Linked DNA regions of Homo sapiens: all the other regions are linked to region 3. The links come from fine-mapping of genetic effects on gene expression. A gene starts in region 3. Each other region holds a variant in brackets. All regions are shown on one strand. Distances are between the middles of the regions.

The links.
Region 1: its variant is fine-mapped to the expression of PLAGL1 in thyroid (GTEx, PIP 0.92).
Region 2: its variant is fine-mapped to the expression of PLAGL1 in whole blood (INTERVAL, PIP above 0.99).
Region 4: its variant is fine-mapped to the expression of PLAGL1 in whole blood (TwinsUK, PIP 0.90).

Annotation. Positions count from the first base shown.
Region 1 is chr6:143,694,955-143,703,213 of GRCh38, forward strand. The region is part of intron 1 of PHACTR2 (phosphatase and actin regulator 2); the gene reads left to right. Among named protein-coding and RNA genes, the nearest start is that of PHACTR2, 21 kb to the left of the region's middle. The variant T/C (reference allele first, on the strand shown) is at 3,363.
Region 2 is chr6:144,032,667-144,040,925 of GRCh38, forward strand. It overlaps a transcript of PLAGL1 not described here and the pseudogene LOC100131041. Among named protein-coding and RNA genes, the nearest start is that of PLAGL1, 29 kb to the left of the region's middle. RefSeq lists an enhancer at 3,895-3,944. The variant C/A (reference allele first, on the strand shown) is at 3,953.
Region 3 is chr6:144,004,264-144,012,522 of GRCh38, forward strand. PLAGL1 (PLAG1 like zinc finger 1) reads right to left here and starts at 3,996. Exons shown (of 8, transcript NM_001317162.2): 1 at 3,827-3,996. It overlaps HYMAI (hydatidiform mole associated and imprinted), which reads right to left and starts at 3,996. Exons shown (of 1, transcript NR_002768.3): 1 at 653-3,996. RefSeq lists silencers at 3,425-3,607, 3,803-3,992, 4,183-4,232.
Region 4 is chr6:144,304,049-144,312,307 of GRCh38, forward strand. The region is part of intron 2 of UTRN (utrophin); the gene reads left to right. Among named protein-coding and RNA genes, the nearest start is that of UTRN, 23 kb to the left of the region's middle. RefSeq lists an enhancer at 2,041-2,160. The variant T/C (reference allele first, on the strand shown) is at 3,484.

The DNA.
Region 1 (8,259 bases), 310 kb before region 3:
ACCCACCTCCTCTAGGTTCAAAATTCCTTATTTTATTGAAAAAGGTCCCTCAAGCTGGTTAAGCACACAAATAAGAATTGGGTGCATCAGAATCTAGTGACCCTAGGTCCTTTTGTAAAATGATTAAAACTCTCCTTAAACCTCAGAAATTATTTAATTTTATAGGCATCTCTTGGACCAGGAATTGCCTTGAGATGGCGAGATACAAGCATTCTACAAAGGCTGCAAACAAGACTCACTTCTCTTAGGCCCTGATCCGAATCCAGATTATGATGGATTGGGCATGGGGATCAGGGCATGCAGAAGCTCTTAGCCAAACCTCTACACCCTTTAGTTGTGACTCTGTCATTGTAGACTTTTAAGGCATCTTGCAGATTAGAATATGCTGAGCACTCAATCTGAGGAAGGTTAAAAGTCATAGAATATTGGTGTTCTTCCAAGTTGAGAACAGAACACTTGGATCCAAGACCCTATTTCAGATTCAACATTCAATACCCTAAGGCATAAAAATGGCGTCTTACTATAGACAGTGGAAATAACTGATAAGGATTTAATTAATTGCTTGTGGTTTTGCAGTGCCAGTCCAGGTTTATTTTCATTGCTGGGCACTGCAGTCCTAGAGGCAAAGGGAATGAGCATAAGGTTCCTGCTAGATCTTTAAAAGGGAAGGGCAGAATAAACAGAGGGCCCTTTGATAATGATTTCTTAGCCAGTCCAGTGGATAACATGAGTCTCATAATCAAGAATCCTCTGGGACTTTGTCATCTACATTGAATTTATAGGTGGTCTTTACTTAAAATATCTGAAGTTAATGGAATCATAAAACAGATCTTTCTTTTCTCTTTAGATTGTGACATTAGGCACATGTGGAAACAACAGTAAAATGCAACTTCCTGTGTTTAGCAGCCGTAGCAACACATCTTATACGGTGCAGGATTTTTAAAAACCAAAAGGAACAACAATTTGTATCTGACTAAATAGCGCCTAATCAGTTTCACCTTGATTTACTAAGCGTTGTATTAATCAAGTAAGCAACTGGCCTTTTCTATAAAATAGTTTTATGTTTGTTGGTTTGATTTTTAAAATTTTTTATTTTTTGCAGGTGCAAGCATAAAAATAAAAAATTCGCAATTTCCCAGCTGGTAGGAAATAGAGCCACGTCCAACTCTTAGCTCCTCTCTCATTCTTGTATATGATGTCAACCTTCTTGCTTAGTTTCTTTCCTTAATCCAGGGCATTTCTGCTATAGAGTAGTGGGGATTTCCCTCGAGTCTTAGTTGGTTTTAGCAGCTCCCAGCAATTATCTTGAGACCAACGGAGAATGCAGGTAACTGTTTTGGGTGGGTATACAGGAGTTTATTTATTTCAGGGGGCATTTTTGTTTTCCTGGAGACCTCTAGAAGACCAGGAAAATATTTTTCCAAGAAATTTTGCTGCCCCAATTGCTCCAAATCATAAATAACCCACTCTCCATTTTTATTCCCCACAAAACCTCTTATCAGCCTTTTTCCACTTGCTTACATGTATTATCTCTATTAACAGTAGCCACAACCCAAATCATGAATTGTATTACCCCATTCTACAGATGAGGAAGGGACTCTGAAAGGTTGAATTACAGACCTAAGGTTACCAGCTAGGATGGGGAGGAACAGATTATTACATTCAGATCTTTCTGGCACTGGAAGCCCATGTTTTTCCTTTGCAGTACTCACAGGTCTGTGTTTATATTTAAATGGCTATTTCCTATTTTTTAAGCATACGCAAAGTCATATCAGGGTGACACATAGCTAAAGAGTTAAACAAAACAAACCATTTTCTTCTCTGGAAGCTTTAGTGTGGAAATACCTAAGTGTCAGCCCTCTCTCCACTTGTGTTTGCTCCCCTTAGGGTACTGTTCTAACAGGAGATATTTGCTTCACAGTGGAAAGGTGAGATAGGAGAGGTGGTGTGTTCTGTTTAAATTGGAATAAAAACTTGTTGCTGGCTGCCAGTCTTAAAGAATGATTCCTCGTCATTGAACATGTTACATTGTAGAGTCAGATGTTTGCCACCACAACACTGGGCTATTATGCAAGGTAGTTCTACCTTGTAGTTCCGATATATTTAGTTAATTGAAAGCCTAAAATATTGCCACATAACTGAACATCTGTCATAATGCTATATTATCAAAGAATTTAATTTCAGATTAAAATGGTTTTATAGTTTTCTATATTGTTCCACTGTTTTCTAAGAGATTCACATTCTCGTGTGTGATGCCTAAAGAGAATGGAAAAAACAAAAGCAGTTTGGATTTAGTTCCAATTTAGTTAGGTAACTTATTTTCTTGTTTCTTTGCCATGGAACAAAATTGCTTTTCTGGCTTCCCCAATTAGGAGAAAGAAGGTTAAGACTGAAGAAAAATCTGAGATGAGAAAGAAGGAAATGTTAACAAAGAGAGTGCTCTTGAAGAAATTAATTTTCACCACTCATCACCGGGTGAAAATAGAAACTTCTTAAAAGACAATTTCACATATAAATTATTCCAGCTGTTTTTCAATTATTTGTCTTTGATGAATTGTCTTTCAATTACCTTGTAAAGAGCAATTAAGTGTTTGCTTACCTGAAAACTGTGTCAGCAATGTCTGTACCATTCTTATGAGTGTTAATCATCCTTCCTGCTGGCTCTGATATTTTCCCAATTTCAAACATTAGTGTTTGTTATATTATCTTTCAAAATATTTGGAATTCTACAGGAAGGCACTGTTGGAAACAATTTCCTCTGTGAAAAATCTAAAGACCTGCTAAAATAAATCATAGCCTAGGCCTTGTAAATTATTGCCCCACATTTACCCATGACTTATTCTTTTTGTAAATATTTTTAGGGACCTTTTTGTGGCCTAAGTACAGTATAGGGGCACCACCAGGAATAAAATCAACTTGCTCCCTGTCCTCATGGGACTCCTAATCTAGTGGTGAGAAGTATTATTTTTTCTTGCTTCTCAGAGAGGTAGTCTTTTTTTTAACCTACTCACTTAATAACAACAACAATTAAAAATCATTTTTATGGTTTCTGAAAACATTGGTGAATTGCAACTGGCTATTCTGAGGTTCTGTTACGGGCTTTTTCCCATCATTCTAGAACATGTTCAATGTTTCTTCAGACCAGTATTGAAAATCTAAATAAAAATTATATTAGAAAAGGATTTTGGAATAAGCTAGTTGGTTTGATGGTGCTCTAATTGGATTCAGAGGCTTTCTGTGTGTGTTTTATCCAAATCCTGCTGGAGCAACTCATTCTCTGGAATGCTTGCTTAACACACCTGTCATTTTAAAGAAAGAAACCAAAATAGAACATCTCGCAAGTGGGGCATCCTCAATAACTA[T/C]GTTAGAAAAAGTATAAAATCAATGCTAAAGGCATCATTATTATAAAATTATTTTTTTAAAAAGCAACTAGTGGAATTGTTTCTCTCAAGAGAATTAGGTGTACAAACCAAGGAATGTTAATCTTTTGCTTTTCAGTGGCTTTTAAATGGTTTCCTGTTTAATTTGCATAGGATATTTCTACCTTTTAGGCAATGCTATGAAACTAGACTAAACCTCTGTAGCCCTCAAACAATTTTACCCTGAATTTTAACTCATAATTTGGAGGCCATCTTGTGCTATGTCTGCCGTGGGAACTAATGCCACAGTACCACCGTGTGAGCCTCTGGGGTCCCCCACATTTCCTACTCACTACACACTGCAGGTCTACGTTTGGGTGGATGGTTGTTTGACTAATGTCAGCCTCTCTCATGGCCTGCAAGCCTCCTAAGGGCAGAGATCTGATCTGTTTTTGCTTACCATTGTAGCCCTTCCTCTATAATAGCTGCTCAGTTAATTGTGCATGAATGTTTCCGTTCCACAGTGAACACACTTTTCTACAGCCTCATTATTTTTGCAGATATCTCCTTCCTCCTCTCCCTTGGATTGTCCGAACCCTGGGTCTCCTTGGCAACACTGTTGCCCTGGTAATTCTCTTCAATGGTGGCTCTGTTGTCCTTTACCTCTCCTATCACAGGGGGCGCTGACATTGCATCAACTCCCCAGTGCTATTCCCTGCTCATTTTGCGTCCAGTCTTGTGCATGCCCTCATCTGAGGTAGGTGCCGTCTGCTGAGTTTTCCTTCACATTTCTTTGGTGCTGTCATCTCCTGACTTCCTGGTCATTTCCTCATATTCACTGGATGAAGTTCAGACTCTCCCTCTCCACCCCAAATCTCGCTATGACCTGAAGGAATTCAGTCCCCATGCAGTCCCCGTGTGGCTGGTCTGACATCCTGGCTGGTGCAGCTCTGCAGCCCTTCTTCTTTCTTGCATCTTCAACACCCCGACACCCAGGGCTCCTTCTCCTCAGCCCATGAACCTGCTTGAGTGTCCTTCACACTTTATGAACTTAAAACAAACAGCAAACAAAACCTTTTTCTTTACTTGTTCATTCTCAATGCCAAAGGAGTTCAACGTTCTTTATTGTGCAAAGCCCACTTGCTCCTAAATGTAATCATTCTCTAGGAGTTTACCCCTGGTCCTCAACAGCTGCTTTTGTTTAGAAGACTCCACCAAATAACTTCAACTCCAGCTTCTTGCTAGAGTGCCAGTAATGCATTTCTGACTGTCCGTTGGACATCTTCCCTTGAATGTTCTGCCAGCACCTGAAGTTCATGGTGCCTGAATACAAGCTAAAGGTCTCTCCTCCAAATCTTCTCTCTTCTTGACATCCAGCCATACCCTTGTAGAGGTTCAGGCCATGGAGTTCTCAGGCAGTTCCTCAGACTCCTCTCTTCTTTCTCCTCAGTGTCCCTCAGATCATCCATCATTTCCAGTCCCTTTTCGCTCCTTCTCTCCAAGTTCAGATGCCTGGGTTGCTGCAGTCATCTCTTAACTGAGCTATAAGGACGTAAATCTGGGAGCCTTGGGGACTCCGTATGACTAATTGACATAAATTCTTCTCCATGGGATGGATCTCCCAGCATCCTGTTTTCCATAGTACATGCCTGCAGGTTTCATGTCTGCCTTGGGGAGATTGTCCGGGATACTACATGTGGCCACGGTCTCTCCACAGATACCGGCCTTGGGGACCCTGTATGACTGCCAGGAGGCTCTTGGACATAGAGAGAACGTTAGTCACATTATATATATTCTCTGGGCTTTTATTTATCCACCAGCCTTTCGACTTAAATATATTGGTCTAGATTTAATGTGTTATTTTAATAATATTTGTGTTACATTCATCCTCAATGGGAATTTTTTCATAATTTTGTCTGAAACAAAATTTAGCCCCTTACTTAAAAACTGTGATATTTCAGCCAGGCGCGGTGGCTCATGCCTGTAAACCAAACACTTTGGGAGGCTGAGGTGGGCGGATCACTTGAGCTTAGGAGTTTGAGACTGGCCTGGCCAACATGGTGAAACCGCGTCTCTACTAAAAATACAGAAATTAGCAAGGCATGGTGGCATGCACCTGTAATCCCAGCTACTCGGGAGGCTGAGGCAAGAGAATCACTTGGACCCAGGAGCCGGAGGTTGCAGTGAGCTGAGATCTCACCACTGCACTCCATCTGGGTGACAGAACGAGACTCCATTGATTGGGGGCAGTGGGGAGGGGGGGCGAGAGGAGAACTGTGATATTTCAGTATATTTTATTTCACAAATTATATATAAGGTCTACCAGCTTCTCCCCTAAAGTTCTGTGCTGACGCACATTCCCAGCATGAACAGGGTGATCATTATCCTATCATGGATGAGTTGAAATTCTTTCACTTGGCAGATTGTCCATTGGGGATATATCAGCTTTTTCTTCCTTTTCACAAACACAGCACACACTCTACACACCATGACCTGCTCCACTTCAGACTCCGGGAGTTGTTGTATATGACTAACATCTACGGGGAACAAGATAGGTTGTTGGTTGATTCCTGTCACGTTTTTCCTCTCTGTAGCGACATCTTGCTATTCCTAAGCAGTCATCCTATCTGTTCATAGAGACAACCCTTCCCTTGTAGCGATAACAGTGGCATTCAAAACGTAAAATGCTTTTATTTACATTAAAATTGATTTTTCCATTAGCAAAGTGGCCCTTTGCCTACTCAATCAGAATTTCTGTAAACCCCAAATAAGAGCGACTTTATTTAATCTGTTAAATATCCTGTAGCAAGTCTAGGGGATGTTGTTCATGTCAGTGAATCAGGATGTCATGCAGCTGCACAAACATATTCGTTCTGCAGGCCTGTTGGCCACAAGTTTAAACTCTGGAATTCTCTGTCAGTGCTTGCAGGCAGATGGAAGTCTTTAGTAGCTTTTCCCTCTGGGAGTTTAAAAATAATGTCTGCCTCTGTTAAAAAAACAAGTTTAAAAATTGATAGTATCAAACTTCTAAAATTAATATTATGATAAATAAGGATTCTGTACAATCAAATTACTTTAGTCAGTATAAAGTATAGAGTACACTGCCTGCCGCCAGCGTGAAATTAACCGTGATGACACTGGGCATTGTTTTAGACAGCAAAACAGTACCTACCCTAACTCCTTGGATTAGCCCAATAAGTGGCTGGGAGTTGAATTGAGTTACTACTCATTAGGGTTTATCTCTTGCCTTATCTTAAAATAAAAATCCACTCCCACCCACTACCCTCCTCCCCATTTTTGTACAGGGAATACTTGGGAGGTAAACTCCCTGAGTTTAAATCCTGCTTACCAGCTGTGGGATCTTGCTAGTTGCTTGGTCTCTCAGCCTCAACTTCCTCATCTATAAAATGGGAATACTAATAGCAACTACTTCGCAGGGTTGTAGTAATGATGAAAGAGGCAGTATTGATAAAGCACTTAGAACAGGTCCTTTTTTTAGCATAATAAAATATCAAGTAATAGAATAGGTCTTAATGTGACCTACAAGACTGATACACTCAGCACAAAGCAATATGAAGTCATAGAATTTTTAAAGTTGGAAAGGAGCCTAGAGATCATTTAACCTAGTCTCCTAATTTCAGCAATGAAAAATTGGGATCCTAGCACAAGGTCACAGGGCTGATTAAGTAGCAGAGTTGGAACTAGGCTCCAACTCTCTTCTTGGCTTACAGTTTACCATCCCAGTTGGGTGGTCAAAACCCAGAACAATAACACAGATTTATTGCTTGTCCTGATTGTGCAATGTCTTCTTTGCTTTTTTTTTTTTTTTTTTTTTTGAGAAGGGATTGCAGTGGCATGATCTTGGCTCACTGCAACCTCCGCCTTCCTGGTTCAAGCGATCCTCCTGCCTCAGCCTCCAGAGTAGCTGGGACTACAGGTGCGCACCACGACAGCTAGCTAATTTTTTGTATTTTTAGTAGAGATGAGGTTTCACCATGTTGGCCGGGATGGTCTCGATCTCTTGACCTTGTGATCTGCCCGCCTCGTCCTCCCAAAGTGCTGGGATTACAGGCGTGAGCCACGGCACCCAGCCTGCTTTTTTGTTTTTTACAAATAGTCTTACTGCTATTTTAGAGCTACTAGGAGTGTTGCTGGTTCACCATGAGTTTAGCTATCATATGCCAATGGAGACAGCCTGGTATAGTGGGAAATAAGCCTGGATCAGGAATCAGGTGACCTAGACTCTTATCTCTTTCACTAGTTAACAATTTGGGAAGCCAGATAGCCTTCCTGGCTCCCAGTTTCCTTATATATAGGGCTTTAATATATAGCATAATGTGAAAGTACTAAACATGATAGTTGTCCCATGGTGGATAACACTGTAACCCAGTGCTTTTATAAATTACATTGCTCAGAACTACTGAGTGCTCTAATATGCATTGTAAGAATATATATACAACTTTTTTTTTTTTTTTTTTTTTTTTTTACAGAAAATAAACTACTGCTCTACCTTTAATCTTGCTTCGGTGAAATTCTAATTTATCATGGCTTCAGGGCAACATCAAAAGATGGTAGAGAAGTAGATTAGCTTTCCCAGAAACCAAGTAAGGGAAAAAAGTTTATAGATGAATCTCACAGACATTCAGTGAAAGAAATACAAAAGATTATATTGTGTAATTCCACTAAGTTAAAGTTCAAGAAGTGATAAAACAGGCCAGGGCACAGTGGCTAACACCTGTAATCCCAGCACTTTGGGAGGCCCAGGCAGGTGGATCACTTGAGTCCAGGAGTTTGAGACCAGCCTGGACAACATGGTAAAACCCTGTCTCTACAAAAAATTACTAAAAAAAAAAAAAAAAAAAAAGAACAGGTAACACAAATCAATGCTGCTGGAAGTCAA
Region 2 (8,259 bases), 28 kb after region 3:
TTCTCCTGCTTCAGCCTTCCAAGTAGCTGGGATTACAGGCGTATGCCAACACGCCTGGCTAATTTTTGTATTTTTAGTAGAGACAGGGTTTCACCATGTTGGCCAGGCTGGTCAAACTCCTGACCTCAAGTGATCCAGTGTGCTGGGATTACAGGCATGAACCACCATGCCCAGCCTACCTAGTTCAATTCTAAGCATTCTTTGGTTGCTACTATGTTCCAGGCAATTACTAAGTAAACCCTGAGAGGTAAGAGATTAAGAGGGACACTATATCGGGGCAATAGACATGTGATAGATAATTCTATATGGCATGATAAGTGATGATGAAGGACCACATGCTATTATGGACACACAGATTTAGGTCACTTAGCTGAACTCAGTAGTAGAGCCCAAGTTTCTAGAAGAAATTATTCATTAGATGAATTTTAGAAAACAGGACATCAGCAAATAAACAAAATGGGAAGAGCATGCTAGGTAAAGGTCATACCACAAGAAGTGCGCAGATATGTGAGTGACATGAGGACTACTGCCTGTAATTGCTAAAGCCTGGAATATACAAAGAATGGTGAGAGACGATGTCAGAGCTACTGCAGGGTCAGCTTGGACTTTTTACCTACAGACCTAGGGCATAATAAATACCAGGTTTAAGCCACTAAGTTTGTAGTAATTTGTCAGGGCAGCAATAGAAAACTAATATGAACTTTGCTGCCTGGAAGTGGTGTGCTGTTGTAACAAATATCTAAAAATGTGGAAAGCCTTGGAATTGGGGAGTGGGTAGAAGCTGGAAGAATTCTGAGAAACATGATGGAAAAACCTAGATTGTCTTCAGCAAACTGAAATACAGACAGGAAAGGTGGTACCAGTGAGAGTTCAGAAGGAAATGAGGAACACATTACTAGAAACTGCAGTAAGGATGATCTTTGTTATATACTAGTAGAAAGCTTAGTGAAATGTGTCCTGTAGTTATGTGGAAAGCCAGAAGTGTAAACAGTGGACTGGGATATTTAGCTAAAGAGATGTCCAAGTTTAGAACTGATCAGGTAACTTAACTACATGCCAGAACAAAGTCCAACACTATTTAAAGGAATAAAACAAAATCCAGCATAAAACAATGTAAAATCACAAGGTCTACCTTCACATCAAAAAATTATCAGGCATGCAAAAAAGCAGGAAGATATGACCCATAACTAGAGAAAAAAATCTGTCAAAAGAAATGGTCTTTTCTAAGTCTGAGGTAATGAGACTTGAACATAAAAGCAGCTATTATAAATGTGCTCCAAACACTCAAGAATGTAGAAGAACCCAAATAGAATTGCTAGAGATGAAAGATACACTATGCAAAATCAAAAACACATGGATGCTTTTACTACACTACAGACATGGTCTCCATGTAGTACATATAAAACTGCAGACTTCAATTTTCCTGGAGTCTTTTATACTGTTAATTACATCTCCATGCAGGGCTGAAAAGAATGACCTGTGTTTACATGTAAAACCACGTTGTTGGAGGAGGGGGTGCCCCAGCTTAGCGAACCCCAGCCTCCCTCCTGGGGTGCCTCATTCCAGGGCTCTTCCATCTTTCTCTAGCTGCCAAGGCCCAGGCTGACAACCCCCCAACCACACCACACCCTCTGGACTGAAGCCTCTAGGCCCCAGATTGCTGACTCAGGCTGCTGGGCACACAGCCCCCAGGCTGACTGGAAGACGGGGCTCACTGCACACTCATCCCAAGGGCAGTGACTTAAGCCTCTCCAGTTTTCCTGTTAACTAAGTAAGCCTCAAGTCCTTTTAGTGTTTGTTTCTCTTCAAGAAAATAAAACACTTATTTGTTTCCTTTGTATCCTCCTCTCATTCAGGGGGTTCAATAAATCATCTGCCAGAAAGGAAGTGTGCAGCTAATTCAGTCCTCCAGCAAAGAAAAGTGGGAGGCCCCGACAAATTGTCATTATGCAATAATGAACCTTGGACAGCCAAAATTTCATCTACAATATCAAACATGGAACTTAACTTTGGAGTTTATTTTATTCTAAAAATCAGGTTTTCCCCCTAGCTTTTAAGATTGAAAAAAAAAATCTTCCTTGGAGGGGACTGTCATCTTACATAGCTGACAGTAATTTTCAGATTTGTGGAGTTTTGCAAGCTTTAAGCAAAGTAGATGAACCAGGAACAAAGCATCAGCTTTGTTTAACATCACTGAGTAGACTAATACTCCTCCCAGAGCCTGATCTAGGACTACAGCTGAAGGCTTTCAGGTTTGGACAAAAATCTTTGAGTATTAACTTGGAAATAAGGTAAATTGATGGATGGGTATGTAATACATTGAGAACAGTTAAATGTTAATGATAGAATCTAGTGGTGGGTATAAGGGCATTCACTGTAAAATTCAACTTTCCTGTACATTTCAAAGTTTTTCATACTAAAATGTTTCAGGGGGTTGGGGGTATATTAGGGTTATCTAGAGACACATAACTAATAGGATAGATGTATATATGAGAGGGAGTTTATTAAGGAGAATTGACTCACACAATCACAAGGTGAAGTCATACAATAGGCCTCCTGCAAGCTGAGGAGCAAGGAAGCCAGTGGTAGATCAATCCAAGCACCAAAAACTCAAAGATAGGGAAGCTCACAGTGCAGCCTTCAGTCTATGGCCAAAGGCCCGAGAGCCCATGGAAAACCACTGGTGTAAGTCCAAGAGTCCAAAAGCTGAAGTACTTGGAGTCTAATGTTCAAGGGCAGCAAGCATCTAGCACGGGAGAAAGATGAAGGCCGGAAGACTCAGCAAATCTGCCCTCCCATCTTCTCCTGCCTGCTTTATTCTAGCCGTGCTGGCAGCTGATTAGATGGTGCCCAACCAGACTGAGGGTGGGTCTCCTCACCCAGTCCACTGACTCAAATGTTAATCGTCTTTGGCAACACTCTGACAGAGATGCCCAGGAACAATGCTTTGCATCCTTCAATCTAATCAAGTTGACATTCAATATTAACCATCACAGGGGGCAAGAGGCTTTGTGTCAAATCCCTGTTGCTATGAGTGGTGAGACTAGAACAAAATGCCCAATACTCAAATTACCTCATTTTCTTGTTTTTTCTTCTTTTTGCCTCTAGATATGATACCTCATTTTTTTAATATGTGTAATGTAGATCATTACTGATCTCATATGGTTGATGAGAAAAATGACAATGTCAAGAACATTTCTGGCACTACTAGAGGCCCTCAAATCAAGGGTAGCCACCTGGTGGGGCAAAGAAACGCAGTTCAGGGATCACTGGAGTGGGCTGGTGAGAAACTTCTTTAAGGAGGTGGAGGAGCAGGGGCATTTCTGGGTTTTATTGTGCCTGGATGGCCATCTGATTACGTGTGGCTTAGCCTGGAAACCCTCAATGCAGGACTCCAACCCCAAGAAAGTGCTTCAAGGACACCCCAGGTGGACCCAGAGGGCAGCTACAAGCCGACTTTTATGCTCTGCCTCCAGAATGACTCCTTCCAATGCTCACTAATGCTTAGGGGCCTGAGGAGAAGTCTTTTATGCCCAGAAATGACAACCACTTCCTCTGACTCTAAGAACAGTCCATTTAGGCTATTTCATCTTTGCCAGTTTCATTTTAGGAAACACAAGCCTTATAACACAATCCTGAGGAAATCAGCTGTGAAATACACAGACTTTGTGCAGAGAAGTGGTGCAAGTGTGCAATGCTTCAGTCTTAGTGACTGAAGACAGCCAGCCCACATGCCCAGTACCAAAGGGGCACATGCTCCACACCAAATGGGCAAAAATTCCACAGCCGAGCCTGCCCAGACAAGGGGACCCGCTACACAACTCCACACCCTCAGCACTTTGTGACAGGACAATTACTGCCGCGTGACAGGACTCCAGTCCTGGGGCTGCTACCGGGTGCAAGTGACATGCTGGAAAGAGCGTGGTAGACATCTAGGGGCCAACTCTAGGAA[C/A]ATGTGTTTCTTATTCAGAATAGCTTTTTGTTTTGTTTGTTTTAACTTGTGAGGCTTCTTCACTACTCAGGGACGAAAGAAAGAGGAAAGAATGGAAAAAGTGAAACTACAGAACAGAAATTGTGCAACTTCCAGAAAACTGCTCTAAGACAAGCAAGAAGGCAGACCTGCTAAATGCCCATTATGACACTATTTGACTAAACAGGTTTGAAATACTCTGGCATAAAATGAAGGCCATCCCCTAATGGTTTGTTCTTGGTGTTGGACAAATCATAAAAGGACCAGACATTGCTGTGATGAATTATATGCCCTGGAGAGAGGCAGAAAGTGATTACACCACCTTCATTTGCACATGGAAAGGAAAACTAAAGGTAGTATCTTAAATCTTTCCTTCGCACAGTCTGCTTGCCTCTTGTCACAGAGCACGCCTGCGTGTCTCTAAAAGCATGTGATATTTTAGTGCTTTAATTAAGTATACATGTAAAGGCAAGAGTCCACCTGATACAACACTGATTTTTGAGACTGAATTTTATGCTGTGACCAGAGGACCACTGAACCATTTAAACAGAAAGACACCATGACAGACAACTCTCTAAAACAGAGCTAATCACTACCTAAAAGAGAAGTTTTAAAAAGATGAGAAGCCATGTGACAAGTCATATCAGAATGCAGTTTTAGGCCAGGCACAGTGGCTCACATCTGTAATCCCAATATTTTGGGAGGCCAACGTGGGACAATAACTTGACCCCAGGAATTCCAGACCAGCCTGGACAACACGGTGAAGCCCCATCTCTACCAAAAAAAAAAAAAAAAAAAAAAAATAGCTGGGTGTGACAGTGTGCACCTGTAGTCCCAGCTACTTAGGAGGCTGAGATGGGAGGATTGCTTTTGCCCAGAAGTTCGAGACTGCAGTGAGCTATCATATGATTGTGCCACTGCACTCGAGCCTGGGTGACAGAGCAAGACTCCATTTCTAAAAAAAACAAAAACAAAGCAGTTTTAGAAGATATTTTAAAGAAAAATGATCATGATGGTGACAGTTTCATTTCTTTTAAGGAATACAATGCATATCAACATTATGAACTATGTTTTTTATTTCTATATTTTCTTAGATATTTACTGTCTTTGTTTACAAAATAGTCACTTTCACAAAAAAACCCAAACCCAAACTACTGCTTTTGATGTTGTGCTATTGTACATAGAAATGTACACAGTAAGGTTCTGCAATGAAAAGCACGTACTCTTGAGACTTAGTACTGCTTTGATTCATTGTTCAGGCTACAATTTCCCCCCTTAGAATGTAAGAAAAGTTAGCGCTTGTCGCCAATAAATGGTAATACTAAAATGAACTAACTCCCACCTATGCAAAGAGAAAAATAATTGAAAAAAATGAGCAAAGTCTCTGAGATCTGTGGGAACAATATCAAGTTGTCTAACAGATAGTAGTTGGAGTCTCAGATGGAGGATAGTAATAGCATTTGACAAAATAATGGCTGAAAATGCTACACATCTGATGAAAGCGATAAGCCTGCAGATCTATGAATCTTAATAAACTCCAAAGCACAAAAAATAAAGCTACATGTGTTAAGACGGTAATACGACTGAAACTTATCTACTTATTGTTTGTTTGTTTGAACTTGTGAGGCTTCTTCACTACATAAGGTTGCCCTATCAAGATTTTGGTTAATTTCATTGTAGAAACTGACAAGCTGTTCCTAAAATTCATATGAAAATTCAAGGGAACCAGAATTACCAAAAAATCTTGAAAGAGTAGAACAAAGTTAAGGGGCCATCCTCCCTAATTTCAAAACTTACTACAAAGCTACAGTAATCAAGACAATGAGGTACTGGCATTAAGGCTAGCTATAGATTAATGAATAGAATCAAGCACCCATAAATAAACCCATATGTCTGTACCCAGTAGATTTCTGACAAGGATGCCAAGACAATTCAATGGGGAAAGAATAGTTTTTTTTCAATGAATGGATAAATAAAATGACATGTCCAAACAAAGAAATATATTTGGAAATAAAAATAAATGAAGTACTGATACATGCTACAACATGGGTGGCCTTTGAAAACATTATACTGTGTGAAGAAATCAATCACAAAGAACCACATATTATATGATCCCATTTATATGAAATGCCCAGAGTAGCCAAATCTAGAGAGACAGAAAGTAGATTAGTGACTGCCTAGGGCTAAAAGTGATGAAAGGAGTGGGGATGATGACTAAATGAAAAAGTCATAAACTTGATTATAGTGGAAAATGCACAACTCTATGAATATACTAAAAGCCATTTTAAATGGGTGAATTGTATGATATGTGAACTATATCTCAGTAAGTTGTTTTTTACAAAAAGAAAAGAAAACCATGCCAAGAGACACATCATAAAAATTGCTGAGAGCCAGTAATATAGAAAATAAATATCAGAAGTAGCTCAGGGATAGGGGAAAGACATAAAGTAAAAACACAAGCCACAAATTTGGGAGATAGGTTTGCTATTCCAGAATTATAAAAAGTGATTACAAATAAATAAGGAAGAGACAATCCAAAAGAAAAATGGGCAAGGCATATAAACAGGTGTTTTACTGAAGAATAAACAGAAATGGCTCAGAAACCAATGAAAAGATGGTTGACTTCATTAGTCATCAGATAATGAAATTTTAAAATATCACATGCTGGCCAGATGCAGTGGCTCACACCTGTAATCTCAACACTTTGGGAGGCAGAAGTGGGTGGATCATTAGAGGCCCAAAGTTTGAAACCAGTCTGGCCAACATGGCAAAACCCCATCTCTACAAAAAAATACAAAAATTAGCTGGGCATGTTGGCACATGCTTGTAATCCCAGCTACTCAAGAGGCTGAGACACGAGAATTGCTTGAACCTGGGAGGTGGAGGTTGCAGTGAGCCAAGATTGTGCCACTTCACTTCAGCCTGGGTGACAGAGTGAGACTGTGTCTCAAAAATAAAATCAAATAAAATATCACATGCCATTTTACACCCCAAAAATGAAAAGGTTGACAAGGAGAGATTTACACTTCTGATAGGGGTATTAAATAGCACAACCACTTTGATCAATAATTTGTAATAGTCAGTGAATACAAAGGGGTATATACTAAATGCTACAGAAATTCCATTCCTGGGTATAAATCCTAGACATATTTATGCATATGTACACCAAGATATATCTGCAAGAATGTTCACAGCAAATCTCTTTGTAGTAGCAAAAGGCCAAAAGGTCTATCAACAAGAAAATTAATACATTGTGGCACATAATGGCATCCTTATGCCAATAAAAATGGATGAAATTATAGTTAGGTTCAAAAGGCAAGCCTCCAGATAATTTATATCATATAATTCCATGTACAACATTCAACAACAAGCAAAACTAAACATATACAAATGTCAGGGAAAATGATGAACAAGGTTAGAAAATGATTAATATAAAAATACTGCACAGTGATAACATTTAATGAGAAAAAAAGAAGGAAGGGCTTAGGGAGGGACCTACAGGGAACTCCAAAGTTCATGGTAAGTACTAAATACATAATCAAAGCACTCAAAATAGAAAATATTTTAGTAATGTTTTAGCTAGTTAATATCTTACTTAAAACAAGGTCTAGGCCAGGCACGGTGGCTCACACCTGTAATCCCAGCACTTTGGGAGGCTGAGGCGGGTGGATCGCTTAAACCCGGGAGTTCAAGACTAGCCTGGGCAACATAGTGAAATCCTGGCTCTATTAAAAAAACAAAAATTAGCTGGGCATGGTGGCACATGCTTGTAATCCCAGCTACTCAGGAGGCTGAGGCAGGCAAATCATTTGAACCTGAGAGGCAGAGGTTGTGGTGAGCCAAGATCACACCACTACACTCTAGCCTGGGTGACAGAGGGAGACTCAGTCTCAAAAAATAAAGAAATATAAAAATAAAGAAAACAATGTCTAAAAAAAAATAAAAGCTACTAGGAGGTAGCCAGGCACAGTGGCTCACACCTGTAATCCCAGCACTTTGGGAGGCCAAGGCAGTCAGATCACTTGAGGCCAGGAGTTCGAGACCAGTCTGGCCAACATGGCAAAACCTGTCTCCACTAAAAATACAAAAAAATTTGTGTGGTAGCACATGCCTGTAATCCCAGCTACTTGGGAGGCTGAGACAGGAGAATTGCTTGAACCTGGGAGGTGGAGGTTGCATGCAGTGAGCTGAGATCAGACCACTGCACTCCAGCTCAGGTGACAGACTGAGACTCTGTCTCAAAAACAAAAACAAAAACAAAACAAAAAAGCAAAGTAATAGGAGATGAA
Region 3 (8,259 bases):
CTCGAACTCCTGAGCTCAAGAGATTCTCCTGCCTCAGCCTCTTGACTGGCTGGAATTATAGACAGGAGCCATGGAACACAGCCCAATAAAATTTTATAAACAGAAACATGCAGTGGGTTGGAATTGGCCCACAGGCCATAGTTTGCCAACCCTTGATACAAAGCAAAAATAAAAAACAAACAAAAATTCTTATACATGCAACATGGATGAATACAATGTGAACAAAAGAATAAACTGTATGACTCCGTTTATATGAAGTTTAAAAACATTTGAAAATAATACATGGTCATAGAAATCGGGACAGTAGTTGACTGGGGGAAGCGAGTGGCTCCATTGATAGGAAGGGGCAGAAGGAATGAAAATGTTTTATATGTTTATCTGGGTAGTAATCACAAAGGTATACACATATGTAAATTTCACCAAGCTACACACTTTTTTTTGTTGTACATAAATTATAGAACTAAAAAACATATGTAGAATTCAACATGGATAAAAAATATATTAAATACATTAAATCTACCTTAAAAGATGTGGGTGATAGAGTGAGGAAGTCTAACAGAAGTCTAATCATAGCTCCTAAAGAATAGGACAAAAATGTGTGAAAATAAAGAGATAAAAGACAAAACTTTCCTGAATTAATGAAACATAAACCTTAGAGACAGGAGATTTTATTCATATATATATATACATTTATATAAATATATTTAATTTTTATATAAACTCTACAGAGAGATTATATATAATCTATATATAAAGTGTATGTGTATATATTATATATATACACACACCTACATACATTGCCTCAAAAGTCTGTGAGTACAAATTATTCTTGATGATACAAGGAGCAGTTAAAACCATAAAGCAATTCTCGAATTTCAAAGAATTGTTGGCCTTGACACGTATGCTAACTACAGTGCAAATTAGAAATCAGTAACAAAAGGATAACTCACAAAACCTTCCACATTGGAACTAGACTACTTTCTACAAATCTCTTAGGGGAAGAAAAAATATCACAATGAAAAAATCTTAAATTCTTAGAACTGAACAATATACTACATAGAAAGCAGCAGTAAATGAAAATCTGCAGTATTTTCAAATGACAAATAAACCAGGATTAACAGCCTGGAAATAAGCCCAAACATATCTGGGTACTGTATGTGACAGAAGTGGCACTGCTAATCACTGATATTGGGACAATTACCTTTTCATGTGGGAATCTGAAAATTAATTAAGCTTGATCTCATAACATAAAATATATACATCTCAATATATACATGTCTCAGGTAAATTAAAGAACAAAATGTGGACAAAACATAAACTTAAAAATTCTTAGAAAAATATTCAGAATACATTTCATTAATAGTAGAGTATCTTAAGACAAAAAGCATAAGGATTAATGTCTACAGTTTAATATCTGCAAGTATATAACAAATATTTGTATCCAGAATGTTTTCCAATATAAATTTCTGCAATGATGGAAATATTCTGTTCTATAATGTATAATGTAAAATATATAACATAATAAAATATAATAAAATATTAAAGTCATATGAGGCTATTGAGCACTAAAAATGTGGCCTGAAAGAACTGAGGAACAGAAATTATTGAGGTAAATACAATATGTTAGCATTTTAAAACGCTGAAAGTCTGTAAAGTTCTGTGATTTTTATATACTTTTTAGTATTTCGTTTTTCATAACAAAATTTGATTTTAGCTAAAATTACTATATAAAATATTCCAGTTGTGTACAAAACATGTAAATGTGACTTTTGGGAAAGCAAACACACCAAATGATGTTTTCTCCTAAATGCTTTTTGAAATATTATAAATTAAGTTATAAGAATACATAAAGAATAATTTAATGAATACTGGTATGTCCACCATGGAATTTATGAAATAAAACATTACTGATAAATTCCCTAGGTACTCCTCCCTGAGCAAGATTTTTTTTTTCTAAAAAGAAGCCAGGAAATAAGAATAACAGACGGAGAGCCCTAGACTCAGGCTTCTTCAGTTTGCAACACCCATATTTTAACATATTTGGGGGGAAATGTAACATTCAAACCCAGTGTGTATCATTTAACAAAGAGTTACAAAGCAAACACCCATGTAACCATTGCACAGGTCAGGCGATAAAGCATTTCCAGCATCTCTGAGCCCCTGACCCTCTCCTCCCCACTAGGAGATGACCATTAGCTTGACTTTTTTTCTTTACTACTTTTAATGCCTATACATGCATCCCTAAACAACAGCTTTGCTCCACCAGGTTCTGAATTTTACATAGAAGATATCACACAGCATTCTCCGGCAACTTTTTTTTTTTTTGGTTCAACACTGAAAGGCATTTGTGTTGAAACACAAAAATACTTCATTGGCCACTGTACAGTGTGCCCTTTTTATGAGTGGTGTATAATTTATCTTTCTCCTTCAGGTAGGCATGAAGGCGGCATCCAGTTTTCTGCCATTACAGTCAACCTTCTTGTACACGTCTGCTTGTGGACATGTATTAAAATTTATCTAGGGCAGTGGCTTTCAAACTTTTTTGTCCATGACTCATACTAAGGAATGACGTTTTACATCATGACACACATTTGTGTATGTATGAAACTGAGGAGGGGGAGAGAGATTCATAAAGCGAACACCCCTATGACCTGAGAGACACTGATGTTCTATTCTCCGTCTGTGTTTTACAAATTCTGATCATCCATTTAAATGACTTTACGACCCACTAAAATGGACTTCAAATTCTGAAAAACATTGTTCTTAAGGATGAATACCCAGGCGTGCAACTGCTGGATCAGGAAACACGGACATCGGACGTCGTCAACTTTTCCAGATCCTTAACTGTTAAATGTTCTTATCTAAGCGCATATAAATTTACCACTATTTAACTTCAGAGCGAAAAGCGTGAAACATCAGAGAACATTTTATCTTTTCCCTCGGTCATTAAACAGTATTAATCACTTACCATGTGCTAAGTAAGCAATCTCTGAGCCCAGCGAGACCGGTGGGTTAATACGCGGAGGGGCTGCGGGGGAGGACTTAGGGGACCAGGACCTCAGTGAGGCCCCAGAAAGCACCCGGGAGGGGCCTCCGATCCTGCCTGGGAGGGAGGGGTTAGAGGAGGATTCCTGGAAGAAGGAGGACCTAAGCTGGGTGTTTCTATTTTTGATTTTTATTGGTTTCCTAAAACATGAAAGTAACACATTTGATGAGAAAAAATATTCAAAATTACAGGAGTATATTCAGTAAAAGGTAGAAATCCCCATTCCGCCCTGAAAGTTGGATGCGGAGACTAACAGAAGTCGCATTATCAGCTGTCCCGATCTAGGAAATTTTTAGGACCCCACGTTTTTAAATACTTTTAAGAGTATGTCTGATACAGTCTGTAATACTAAAGCATCAAAATAATCATATTTTCCATAAGAGACGAAAGTGCAAACAGTTACTGTCTAGTCCCATTATTACTTGGAACAGACTTTTTCTTCTTTTCCTTGTTCTGTTTTTTTCCTGGCCCGTTGGCGAGGTTAGAGCGCCAGGTTGTAAGAATCGGGTCTGTGGACCTCATACCAGATAGGCGCGAACGCCTCTGGCAGCGGCGTCCAGGGGGTCCGGCGGCACTCGCGGTGGGGCTGCCTGGGTTGCGGGTGACGATCTGCGGGGTCCCGCACCCGGCCCCGCGGAGCCCGGACCCGCACGTAGGCGGCGCGGCAAAGGCACACCCTCCTCGCGGCCGCGAACCCAGCGCCGTCCTCGCAGCGCGGCAATGCACGGCCACCGCTGCCCCCAGCCCGCCCGCCGCAGCCGCGAGCACCCAAACACCTACCCTGCGGGGCGACGACCCCCGGAGCTCAGGCGAGGCCGCTCGGGCGTGCCACCTCCGCGGCCATGACGGCGACCCGGGGAAGCGCCCCGCGCGCCAAGGCCCCGCGCTGCTGAGCTGTGAGCACGGCTGCCCCGTCCGTCCGTCCGTCCAGCACCCGCCCGGAGAGTGAGGCCAGAGCACGCCCCAGCCGTGTCTAAATCAAGGCTCGGGGCGGTACCGACGGGCTGAATGACAAATGGCAGATGCCGTGGGCTTTGCCGCCCGCGGCAGCCAAGAGGATGGCTGCGCCGAGGAGGCCGCGCGCAGGCGGGGCTCGGGAGCCGGAACGGCGCGGCCGCGAGGAGGGCGCTGGGGCCCCTGGCGGGGGCGTCACGTGGCAGGAGGAGGCCCCGCCGGGGAGCTGGGGGTCGGCGGCCGAGGCGGGGGGAGCTGAGCGGCACCCACACGTCCTGCGGGCCGGGTCACCGGTGGGGGCAAAGCCAAGGTCGCCCAGGTACAGCGCTGGCGCAGGTAGACCCGAGCCGGCCTGGGGTCTGCAGCGGGGCCTGCTAGCCGAAGTCTCCGCCAGGATGGGCCGCCAGAGCCCAATCACACATGAGAAACGCGACAGATGCTGGGACGCTGCAATAGGCCAAACTAACTTACCTCCTGTGCCAGCAGCGCCCAAGTGCAGCTGCCCAAACGTGAGCACTGACCGTGAGCCAGGCACTGTCCTAAGCACTTTGCAGGTAAATACGTGTAATCCTCACAGCAACACTGGGAGAAATACCCGTCTCACAGCTGAAGAAACGAAGACGCAGAAAGGGTAGACAGAAGTAATTTTCTAATTACGGTATCACACTACGTCTGCTTCATATAATTTCAAATTTTTCATGTTACTGGAATTTAAGAAAAATAAACTGAAGGGAATCTCTATTGCTTTCTTCCCTAAAAGACGTGCTTTTTAAAAGGCCTATAAGCATTACGTAAAAAGATTAAGAGAGGTGTAAGGAGCTCACTACATGTTCGGGTTTAGAAAGTCTCATAGCTCTGAAAGATGAGGTTAATTAGCATCATACACCTCCACCTACCTTTAGGGGGTAACCCTGCCTCTCAATTTCCATTAGTTCTGTTACTTTCGGCTTCCTAGCAATGAGAACATTTGCAATTGCTCTGCAACTTTATTTTTCCAGATGTTGTCTTAATTCTATCTTTAAATGAATTTGATATTCACTGTAACTTATCTATCCCTGAATTTTTATTTTTATTTAGTTCTTGATGGACTTCCTTCATTTTCAAGTCATATTCCTAAGGAGGGTTTATAGAGTGCTGCCATGTTTGAGAAGATCTGGTGTTTTTCTCTATACATAAATAAAAAGTGAGTTGGGTAAATATTTTCAATTCACACCTTCCTTCAAAACCTAACAGAACAAGATGGCAATTGCTTTATTTATTTTTTTATTATACTTTAAGTTTTGGGATACATGTGCAGAACGGGCAGGTTTGTTACATAGGTATACACATGCCATGGTGGTTTGCTGCACTCATCAACCCGTCATCTACATTAGGCATTTCTCCTAATGCTATCCCTACCCCACTAGCCCCCCACTCCCCAACAGGCCCCAGTGTGTGATGTTCCCCTCCCTGAGTCCATGTGTTCTCATTGTTCAACTCCCACTTATGAATGAGAACATGCGGTGTTTAGTTTTCTGTTCCTGTGTTAGTTTGCTGAGAATGATGGTTTCCAGCTTCATCCATGTCCCTACAAAGGACATGAACTCATCCTTTTTTATGGCTGCATAGTATTCCATGGTGTATATGTGCCACATTTTCTTAATCCAGTCTATCACCAATGGCCATTTGGGTTGATTCCAAGTCTTTGCTATTGTGAATAGTGCTTCAATAAACATACGTGTGCATGTGTCTTTACAGTAGAATGATTTATAATTCTTTGGGTATATACCCAGTAATGAGATTGCTGGGTCAAATGGTATTTCTGGTTCTAGATCCTTGAGGAATTGCCACACTGTCTTCCACGATGGTTGAACCAATTTACACTCCCACCAACAGCGTAAAAGCGTTCCTATTTCTCCACATCCTCTCCAGCATCTGTTGTTTCCTGACTTTTTAATGATTATCATTCTAACTGGCATGAGATGTTACCTGATAAGCAACTTCAGCAAAGTCTCAGGATACAAAATCAATGTGCAAAAATCACAAGCATTCCTATACCCCAATAGTAGACAAATAAGAGAGCCAACACATGAGTGAACTCTGATTCACAATGGCGACAAAGAGAATAAAATACCTAGGAATACAACTTACAAGAGATGTGAAGGACCTCTTCAAGGAGAACTACAAACCACTGCTTAAGGAAATCAGAGAGGACACAAACAAATGGAAAAACATTCCATGCTCATGGATTGGAAGAATCAATTATCATGAAAATTGCCATACTGCCCAAAGTAATTTATAGATTCAATGCTATCCCCATCAAGCTACCATTGACTTTCTTCACAGAATTAGAAGAAACTACTTTAAATTTCATATGGAACCAAAAAAGAGCCCGTATAGCCAAGACAATCCTAAGCAAAAAGAACAAAGCTGGAGGCATTACACTACCTGACTTCAAACTACACTACAAGGCTACAGTAACCAAAACTGCATGGTACTGGTACCAAAACAGATATATGGACCAATGGAACAGAACAGAGTCCTCAGAAATAACACCACACATCTACAACCATCTGATCTGTGACAAACCTGACAAAAACAAGCAATAGGTAAAAGATTCCCTAGTTAATAAATGGTGTTGGGAAAAACTGGTTAGCCATATGCAGAAAACTGAAACTGGACCGCTTCGTTACACCTTATACAAAAATTAACTCAAGATGGACTAAAGACTTAAAACATCAGACCTAAAACCATAAAAAGCCTAGAAGAAAACCTAGGCAATACCATTCAGGACATAGGCATGGGCAGAGTTCATAACTAAAACACCAAAAGCAATGGCAACAAAAGCCAAAATTGACAATTGGGATCTAATTAAACTAAAGAGCTTCTGCACACCAAAAGAAACTATCATCAGACTGAACAGGCAACCTACAGAATGGGAGAAAATTTTTGCAATTATCCATCTGACAAAGGGCTAATATCCAGAATCTACAAAGCACTTAAACAAATTTATAAGAAAAAAACAACTCCATCAAAAAGTGGGCAAAGGATATGAACAGACACTTCTCAAAAGAAGACATTTATGTGGCCAACAAACATATGAAAAAAGCTCATCATTACTGGTCATTAGAGAAATGCTTCAAAGATTTCTGTGGAAAGATCTTAATCCCATGTAATTTTCCCCTTGGAGGTGGCTTGATTTTTCTGCTTGGATACCTGAAGAATTCTTTAACATTAATATACCCTTTAGTATTCTTATCTGGGCTATGCCTCTGTGTCAGTTATTCTAGATCAATTTTTCCCCCCAGCATACAGTATGATCTTCCAATTTATAGATTATGTTCTTTTCTAATGTCCCATGTATATTATATATCTGAATACGCTGCTTTTTCAGGGCTGAATGTTGTTTCTATCTACTTGTTCTGTGATCCAAGGTTTTTCGGACAAGGAGAGGTGGGGGAAAAGGGGATGTGTGGAATTCAGCTCAGACAGAGTATAAAGCTTGCTGGAGGAACTCAACCTTCACATCTGAGATTCCTTTAAGTCCTCTGGCAGCTGGACTTCAAGCTAGCCAAGGGAACATCCCATGCCTCAGAGTTTCAGTTCATTTGCTCAGTTCAGCACAGTATCCCAGAAAGTGGGAAACTTTCCTGCCTCTGGCAAGATCCAACAGTGGTATGCAAAGGTTCCTCAACATCTCACAGGTGTGCCCTGCCTTTCCACATTGGGGGACGTTTGTGAGAATTCTTAGGATTTGGTCTGATCATCTTTTTCCTCAACATGTCTTGCAGCGGTGGGTGGAGGGCTGGGCAGACATAGGTTCATCTGGAGACAAAGCACGCCTCCATAGAATCTTCTGTTCTCTTTGTTTTTGCTATCAATTCTCAAATTTTACATTATAAGGTTGTACTTTTTTCTTCTTTGGTTGCAGCATGTAAGTTTTTTGTTGCTTTCTTTCCTTTGGGTGATTTAGTGTTTTGTTTTGTTTTTGAGACAGAGTCTCGCTCTGTCACCCAAGCTGGAGTACAGTGGCATGATCTTGGCTCACCGCAACCTGCCTCCCGGGTTCAAGCAATTCTCCTGTCTCAGCCTCCTGAGTAGCTGGGATTATAGGCGTGCACCATCACAACCGGCTAATTTTTGTATTTTTAGTAGAGGCTGGTATGGGGGTGCTGGGTTGGGGGGAAGTTCGCCATGTTAGCCAGGCTGGTCTCAAACTCCTGACCTCAGGTGATCCGCCTGTCTCAGTCTCCCAAAGTGCTGGGATTACAGACGTGAGC
Region 4 (8,259 bases), 300 kb after region 3:
TATAATAATTCAGGTAACAAATGCTTTCCTTAATGTGATGCTCTGCTGTGGAGGTTTTGGGAATAGAAGAAAGAAGAGGCTGTTATTGTCATACTGTTTGTAAGTTCATCTTTCTTTACATTCAGTGGATAACTAAAATCTACTATATATGCTGATATTTCAGAAATGGTGGTTCCCTTAACCTTCAAGAAAAAACAAAAGCTCTCATTTGTAAACACTTGCAAGCATTCTTGGGTTGTCTCTTGGTGGTACCCAAGTTTTTGCTTTGGCCGGTAAGAGACTTTTGCATAGTACTTTGTTGCCTTGCCTCTACAACATGTTAGGCTTGTGGATTGGCGCATGGTGAATAAGACACAGTTCCAGTTGTCGACTGTCTGTCACCTAGAGAGGGCAGGTACACAGGAATTTAAGAAAACAGATTAAACAGGCAGTTACACAGTTGTAAAAGTAAAAACAGCACAGATTGCTGTGTGAGCTCACGGGAGTGGTACCTGACATCCCAGGGCTTCAAGGAAGGCATCTTGGAAGAGTGGATATCTAAGCTGAGATCTGAAAGAATGAGTGGGGATGTGGGGAGGCTGTTAAGACAGAGGGAGTTGATGACAAGAGGTTTGGAGGTGAGAATTGTGAGGTTTTCAATATGGCTAAAGCAGGATGCTGGAGAATGAAGCTGAGAAGAGTGTTATAAGCCATCTTTAGGAGTTTGAGTTGTATCCTAAGCATAATGGTGAATCTTTGAAAGGGCTTTAAAATTAAAAAAATTTATATTTATATATTTATCATTTTTAAAATTCTGAAGTATTCAATCTAAAAAAATGTACAGGAAATGATATATCAGATATGCTCGTGCCCTCATTTGAAATTTATCAGCTGTTAATGTTTTGACTTTTTTTTTTTTTTGAAATGGAGTTTCACTCTTGTTGCCCAGGCTGGAGTGCAATGGCGCGATCTCGGCTCACTACAATCTCCCCTTCCTGGGTTCAAACAATTCTTGTGCCTCAGCCACCCGAATAGCTGAGATTACAGGCATATACCATCATGCCCAGCTAATTTTTTTTGTATGTTTTGTAGAGACATGGTTTCACCATGTTGGCCAGGCTGGTAATGTTTTGACGTATTTGATTTAGGTTGTATTTTAAAGAGCTAATTATGTCAGCATAGATAAATCTTAAAAACAATTTGACTACAAACAAAAATCAGGTTGCACAATGTATTGAATGGTACTGTATATAAAGCTCATATACCTGCAGAAATTGCCCTGCAGTGTTTATGTATTCATATTATAAATATATAGCAAAATACAAAAATTTTTATGGAAATTATAAACACTAGATTTCTTTAGAGATAGTGAGAGAGGAGGTTCTTCAGTTTTATCTATAATATTTAATTCCTCAATGAAAATAGAAATAGAATCTTAAATTAATATGAAATAATGCTGATTTGTGAACTGAGTGATGACTGTCTTAAGCCCAGTTCCTTGGAAGTAGGATTTGAGACAGAGATTTGTGTGCACTTGAGAACAATTCCTGTTAATGAAAGAAATGAGGGAAGAAGGACTGGGCCAGGGAAAAGCTGAAGTGTAGTTGAGTTACAGCAGGGCCACCATTGGATCCATAGGGAATGCTGGTGCTGGGATGGCCCTTCAGAGATTTCCCAACTTGAGGCAATGTGTTGAGCCTGGGGACCTTTGCCTTGACCAGTAGGCTTTTGGCTGACCCTGGGAAGGAGGTGAGGTGAAAATCTGGGCAAGGTAACTTGGCCAAGGGCAGTTCCTGGACGGATGCTCAGCTATGAGCCCTCAGCTGCTGGGGGAATGAATTTGTGCATTGCCTTGCCTGAAAGGCAGATCTGGATAGGAGATTCACTGCAGTCATGGACCTTGTACCATTTTCTTTTGCCTATTATTGTCTATTTCTATGTCTGAAAGATATGACATATTAAATAAAAAAAGCTTCCAATTTCTAGGAGCAGTATTCACCGAACTACTTCCCTGACACATACATACCTCACACCCTGCACACACCACACACCACAAACCGTAGCTGTAATATCAGGTTACATACTTTCTGTTTTATTTTCCCTTTTCTCTGTGTTTTTGGTTACTTGAGATGGCCTCCTCTCTCTCACTCCTGGTTTGGGAAGGCCTTGCTTCCTCTGAAAGCTTGTGAGCAGAGGGCTGATCTGATCAGATTTGCTCTTCTGAGTGGTGCTCTAGAAGCCACGTGGAGCATGGATGGTGTGGGGTGTGTGCTGGATGAGGCAAGCCTGGGGTTCTGGAGGACCTTTGGGTGGCTGTCACAGTTAGAGGATAAGAGGTATTGAAGCCAAAACTGAGATTGAGGTAGCTGGGAAGGAGGAGAGGGGAGAGTTTAGAAGCTTTAGGTAGGAGGCAGACCTGATAGGACATGGTGGTGGTCTTCAGATGATGGGTGGTGGATGGGATGGAGAGAGAAGCCTGGTTTTTGACTTTAACACTCGCAAATGAAGCCTTTCTTTCTAGGTTTTGTGGAGAGGGCAGTGCATAAGGGGATAGTAAGTGAAGTTCTAGATTGAGTTTTGAGGTGCCTGGAGATATCTGGGAAAAATATGTAATATATATATTTCTCTTACATGTATGAGACTGGCTTGGGCTGGGGTCTGCCCTTGAAAACTGGCAGCTGGAGTCTTGAGTACTTTCCTGAGTCATTTTTTGAGCTCTTTGCAAGATAATGTTAAAAATTCAAGAGGCCGGGTGTGGTGGATCATGCCTGGAATCCCAGCACTTTGAAAGGCCGAGGCGGGCGGATCACCTGAGGTCAGGAGTTCAAGACCAGCCTGGCCAACATAGTGAAACCCTACCTCTACTAAAAATACAAAAAAAAAAAAAATTACCTGGGCATGGGGTCGCGCACCTGTAGTCCCAGCTACTCAGGAGGCTAAGGCATGGGAATAATTTGAACCTGGGAGGTGGAGGCTGCGGTGAGTCAATATCACATCACTGCACTCCAGCCTGGGTGGCAGAGTGTGACTCTGTTGAAAAAAAAAAAAATCAAGAACTGTTGCATATTTTATTTATCTTTGTATTTTCTGAGATATTTTTGACTGACCCTAAAATGAGCATCTGGATGGTAGATGACGGCAGCGGAAGATGAAGAATTAAGAAGTGGTTTTTGATTTGTAATATTTTTTAGTAGATATTATTAGTTGATGCCGCAGTTGTTGACTGTATTTATCTCCCAAGGGCATAGGAAGCCCCCTTGCAGATATTACTCTACCTAGCCTGACTGGGTGTTTGGGGAGGGAGAGAAGAGGTTAACAATAAATCCTGCAATATGTGCAGAAGTTTTTACACTTGTGTTTCTGCATATTTTCTTAGAAAAAGGGTCCACAGTTTTCATTATATTCTCAAAGGAGACCTATGACTTAATGAAAAGTTAAGTCTTGTTAGAGGAAGAGTGACATATTATAGGGTTATGTCTTCATAATGTTTCTTTTTTTCTGAAA[T/C]TAGATTGGCAGTCCAATACGCTGGCACGAACTGAGGGTCTCACACTTTTGCTGTAACTCAAATTCTGGTCCTTACTTTACTTCTACTGCCTTAAAGCCACTCAAACAAAAGACCTGATTGCTAGAATTAGGTTGAGAAGACACAAAGTTTGAAGGGCAAAATTTCTGATAATGTTTGACCCAGTTTTGCATATAATGTATTTTTATTTGTTGATGAATATTTCCCTTTTGTTGCTAAAAGTGGCAAATAATCAGACATAGATTACTAATTAACAGTCTGCCTCAGTTTTTTTTTTTTTTAATTAATGAAACTTGGGCTTCATCAAGCTCAGGTGGAATGGATATCACAGTGCTTTATTTTTTCTGACATCAAAAGAAATTTCTTTGTCAAAGTGTAGACATGTTTGTTGTGACTGCCTTTTGTGTGGGTTCTTTTCTCCCAGCCCTCTCCTACTACAGGAGAGAGAGATAATGGCCCTTTGCTCCTCATTCCGCATTCAGACCAGATTCCCCAGCTGCAATCTCCTGCCATCGGATTGCATCACCAACTCAACCTAATTGGTGAGATGTCACTCCCTCCCTCCACCGCTCACTCTCATTTCTCAGTGAGTTTAGCTCTGTCACTCTCTCTAAAAGTTACTCTTGTTTTAGTGATTTGGGTGTAAACATTGATGATCCTTCTAATACTCTGTCCTCTTAATTTCTCTAAGTTCTCTTTCTAGTGATCTTGTCTCCCAGTGTGGTGGGTATATTCTGGCTAGACCAGGTCATTGTTTATGGTGGCAGCCCCTCTGTCATCTGAATTTAAGCGTCCCATTTTTTCGGTACTAGCATGGCTCACTGCAACCTCCGCCTCCTGGGCTCCAGCAATCCTCCCACCCTCGGGTAGCTGGGGCTATAGGCATGTGCCACCACGCCTGGCTAATTTTTGTATTTTTTTTTGTAGATAAGAGGTTTCACCATGTTGCCCAGGCTGGTCTCAAACTCCTGGGCTCAAGCAATCCATCCACCTCAGCCTCCCGAAGTGTTGGGATTACAGGTGTGAGCCACCATGCCCGGCTGACTTTGCCTACTCTTGCCCTAAGAAAATTGAAGCAAACCAAAGAGGAATCCAGAAACTTCAATACCACATCTATCCTCAACCAGAACCCACCCAAGGCCACCCTAACCGTGTACATTGTACCCATCCTCCTTTACTTACTCAAAGTCACCTCCCTTCTCTCTTCTGCATCCCTATGATTTCCCCTTTAGTGGATCCGCTTACAAACATGCTATTGTTTTTCTTCTAGCAAAACTTTACTTTGATCCCACCTGTCTCTGTAGCTACCACGCCATTCCTCTGGTCCCCTTTATGAAAGAGCTCCTCAAAGATTGTATGTACCAACATTTGCAGTTCGTCTCCTTTCATTCCCTCTTAAGACCACTCAAATCAGGCAGACCCCCTACCAGTCCAGTAAAACTGCTCTTGTCAAAGTTATTAGGGACCTCCTTGTTGCTAAATCCAGTAGCCTGTTCTCAGTCCTTACCTTATTCCACCTCTCAATAGCATCAACACTGCTGATCACTCCCTCCTCCATGACTCTTTCTTCATTTGGCTTCTAGGACACCCCACACGCTCCTGGTTTCCCACCCATTATCTTTTGCTGATTCTTCCTCTTAACGTTGGAGGGCCCAGGACCCAGTCCTTGGACCTCCTCTCTGTCCCCACTGTTGCCGTTTGTCATCTCACCAGTATCCTGGTTTAAATACTATCTGAATGCTGGCTCAAATTTCTATCTCTAGCCCAGACCTCTTCCTCTGAACTGCATACTTGCATTTCCAGTTGTTTACTTCACATCTTCTATGTTCAGATCTGAAAATCTGAACTCCTGATCTCCCGTAAACCCCAAAGCTGATCCCACAGTCTTGCTTGTCTCAGATAAAGGCAATGTGATTCTTCCAATTGCCCCAGTTTTGGAGTCATCTTTGTAGTCCTTTCTTTCTCGTATACCCACATCCAATGCAGCAGATCCTGCTGGTTCTATTTTCCTAATACTGAATTTATACAGAATCCGGTCATATTTTACGATCTCCACTGCTACTGTCCTGGTCTAGGGGACCATTGCTTTTTCTGGAATTGCCTCCTTACTTGTCTCTCTGCTTCCTCCCTTGGCCCATGGAGGCTGGTCTGAACCCCACAGTAGAGGGATCCTTTTCAAATCAGAAGTGGATATGTTGCTTCAGGTTTCCAAGTCTGCAGTGACTCCCCATTCCAGTTGTAATAAACGCGAAAGACCTTACAGTGATCTACAGGACCCTGTTTATCCTGCCTGGCTTCATCTCCCCTTACTAGTTTGTGCTCATTATATGAGGCAGGCACCTCCCAGGTCAGGGCCTGAGCCCTCTTCTAGCAGATAACCTTGTGGCTAACTCCCTCCTCTCAGAGAGCTACTGTGCCAGTCAATTAAAATAGCAAATCCTTCCCTCATTAGCCCTCTCCACCCACTTTATCCTGTTTCATTTTTTCCCATAGCACTTACTGGATTATGCTGATTGTCTTTTTCCACTAGAATGCAGGTATTTTGTCTAGGTTGAATCACTAGTATCTAGAACAGTGCCTGACACATAGTATGTGCTCAATAAATACACGTGTGCAGAAGCAAATCACATTTTTCATTGCTTTCCACAAGTGTGAGCCTGGGCTACATAGTGAAACCCCATCTCTACAAAAGATATAAAAATTGGTCTGGGTGCAGTGGCTCATGCCTGTAATCCCAGCACTTTGGGAGGCTGAGGCAGGCGGATCACCTGAGGTTGGGAGTTGGAGACCAGCCTGGCCAACATGGAGCAACCCTGTCTCTACTTAACATACAAAATTAACCAGGCATGGTGGCTCATGCCTGTAATCCCAGCTACTCAGTAGGCTGAGGCAGGAGAATCGCTTGAACCTGGGAGGCGGAGGTTGCAGTGAGCTGAGATGAGCCATTGCACTCCAGCCTGGGTAACAAGAGTGAAACTCCGTCTCAAAAAAAAAAAAAAAAAATGGCTGGGCATGGTAGTGCATGCCTGTGGTCCCAGCTACCTGGGAGGCCGAGGTGGGGAGACAGGGATCACTGGGCGTGGCGGGGGGTGGGGGGCGTGCCTGTAATCCCAACTACTGGGGAGGCTGAGGCACAAGAATCGCTTGAACCCAGGAGGCAGAGGTTGCATTGAGCTGAGATCGTGCTACTGCACGCCAGCCTGGATAACAGAGCAAGATGCTGTCTCAAACACAAACAAACAAACAAAAAACAAACAAGTGTGCAATCCCTGAGAAAAATATCAGTTCAATCTTTGTTGATCTTTATTGTCCCGATTGATTAGCTGCATGTCAGCCTTTGACTGTGTTTCCCAGATGCTCACGACAGATCGATCACTTGATGTTGTTTTCAACAGGCAGTCATGAAATGAGCAGACTGAGGTCAGTGTAGTATAGATATTTGTCAGCGTGGTTGCCAACTGCCTTTCCTCTTCTAAGATTGCCCTTTATTGTGTGATTATATTACATTTTTAGTTGGCATGAAAATGCCCATTTAGTGAAATGATGAGGATCTTCCTGGGGGAAGAATTCTGGCGTAAGAAGCTTTCTTCAGATTACTAAGCACTCTAAAAGGTCCCAGGTTATGGGGCTCTGGAAAGTAACGATGCGAATACTTCACTTGGTTATGTGATTTTTATTTTTGCCTTGGAAGTCTTTCTGCAAACAAGTCTTCCAGTGGAGGCTCATTTTAGGAATGTGACGATGCATTGCTGATAGGTAGGATGTGGCTTTCTATACAGCAGAGTTTGGGGGGTGGGACTGGCAGGTGAGTAGCTCAACCCAGGCTTCTGAGGGTCCTTCATGTCTTTTGGAACACAATTTGAAAATCACTGCTTTAATTGCTAAATTCTAGAAAACCTGGATGCCCTATTTAAAAAAAGAGCTTAGCTTAGTGTCAAAGAGGAACTAGGTTCCAGTTTTAGCTCTGCAGATCACCAGCTGTGTGACCTTGAATATGTCACTCAAGCTGTCTGCACAATTAATTGATTTGTTTGTAAGGTAAGGAGTATGGACTAGATGACCTCACACTGATCACTTTCTAAGCTCCAGAAAACCTAATTGTTAATGCTTAATTGTGCGAGCTGTGCTCGGGAAGGGCTGTGTTCTAGTACCTTCTTCCTCATCACTGTCATTTCAGTATTATCTACACTGATCTTCACAAATATTCTGCACACTTGGATTCTAACCTGCAATATTGCTGTTGGGGTTATAGAAATATAGATTATATGATGGTATTTAGGGTAAGCATTTTTATCTCTAAAATGAGTTAGATATCAAGGATGGCATGGTATTAGATTACACAATATTTGAAAAGAATAATAAGAAAAATCCTGCAGGATTTAAAAATCTTATTAGTACTCTTCTGTAGAAATACTTTAGGGAATGGTTCAGACAGTATCAGGTGCTGTGGGTGTAAGCATGGCCACCTGCTAGCTCTGTGAACCTGGACAAATGGCTTAGCTGCTCTGTGCCTGAGTAAAGTAGAGATAGTAATAGCATCAACCTCCTCGTGTTGTAAAAAGTAAGTGAATTAACATATATAAAGCAATTTGGGGCCAGGCGCGGTGGCTCATGCCTGTAATCCCAGCACTTTGGGAGGCCGAGACGGGTGGATCACGAGGTCAGGAGATCGAGACCATCCTGGCTAACACGGTGAAACCCCGTCTCTACTAAAAATACAAAAAATTAGCCGGCCTGATGGCAGGCGCCTGTAGTCC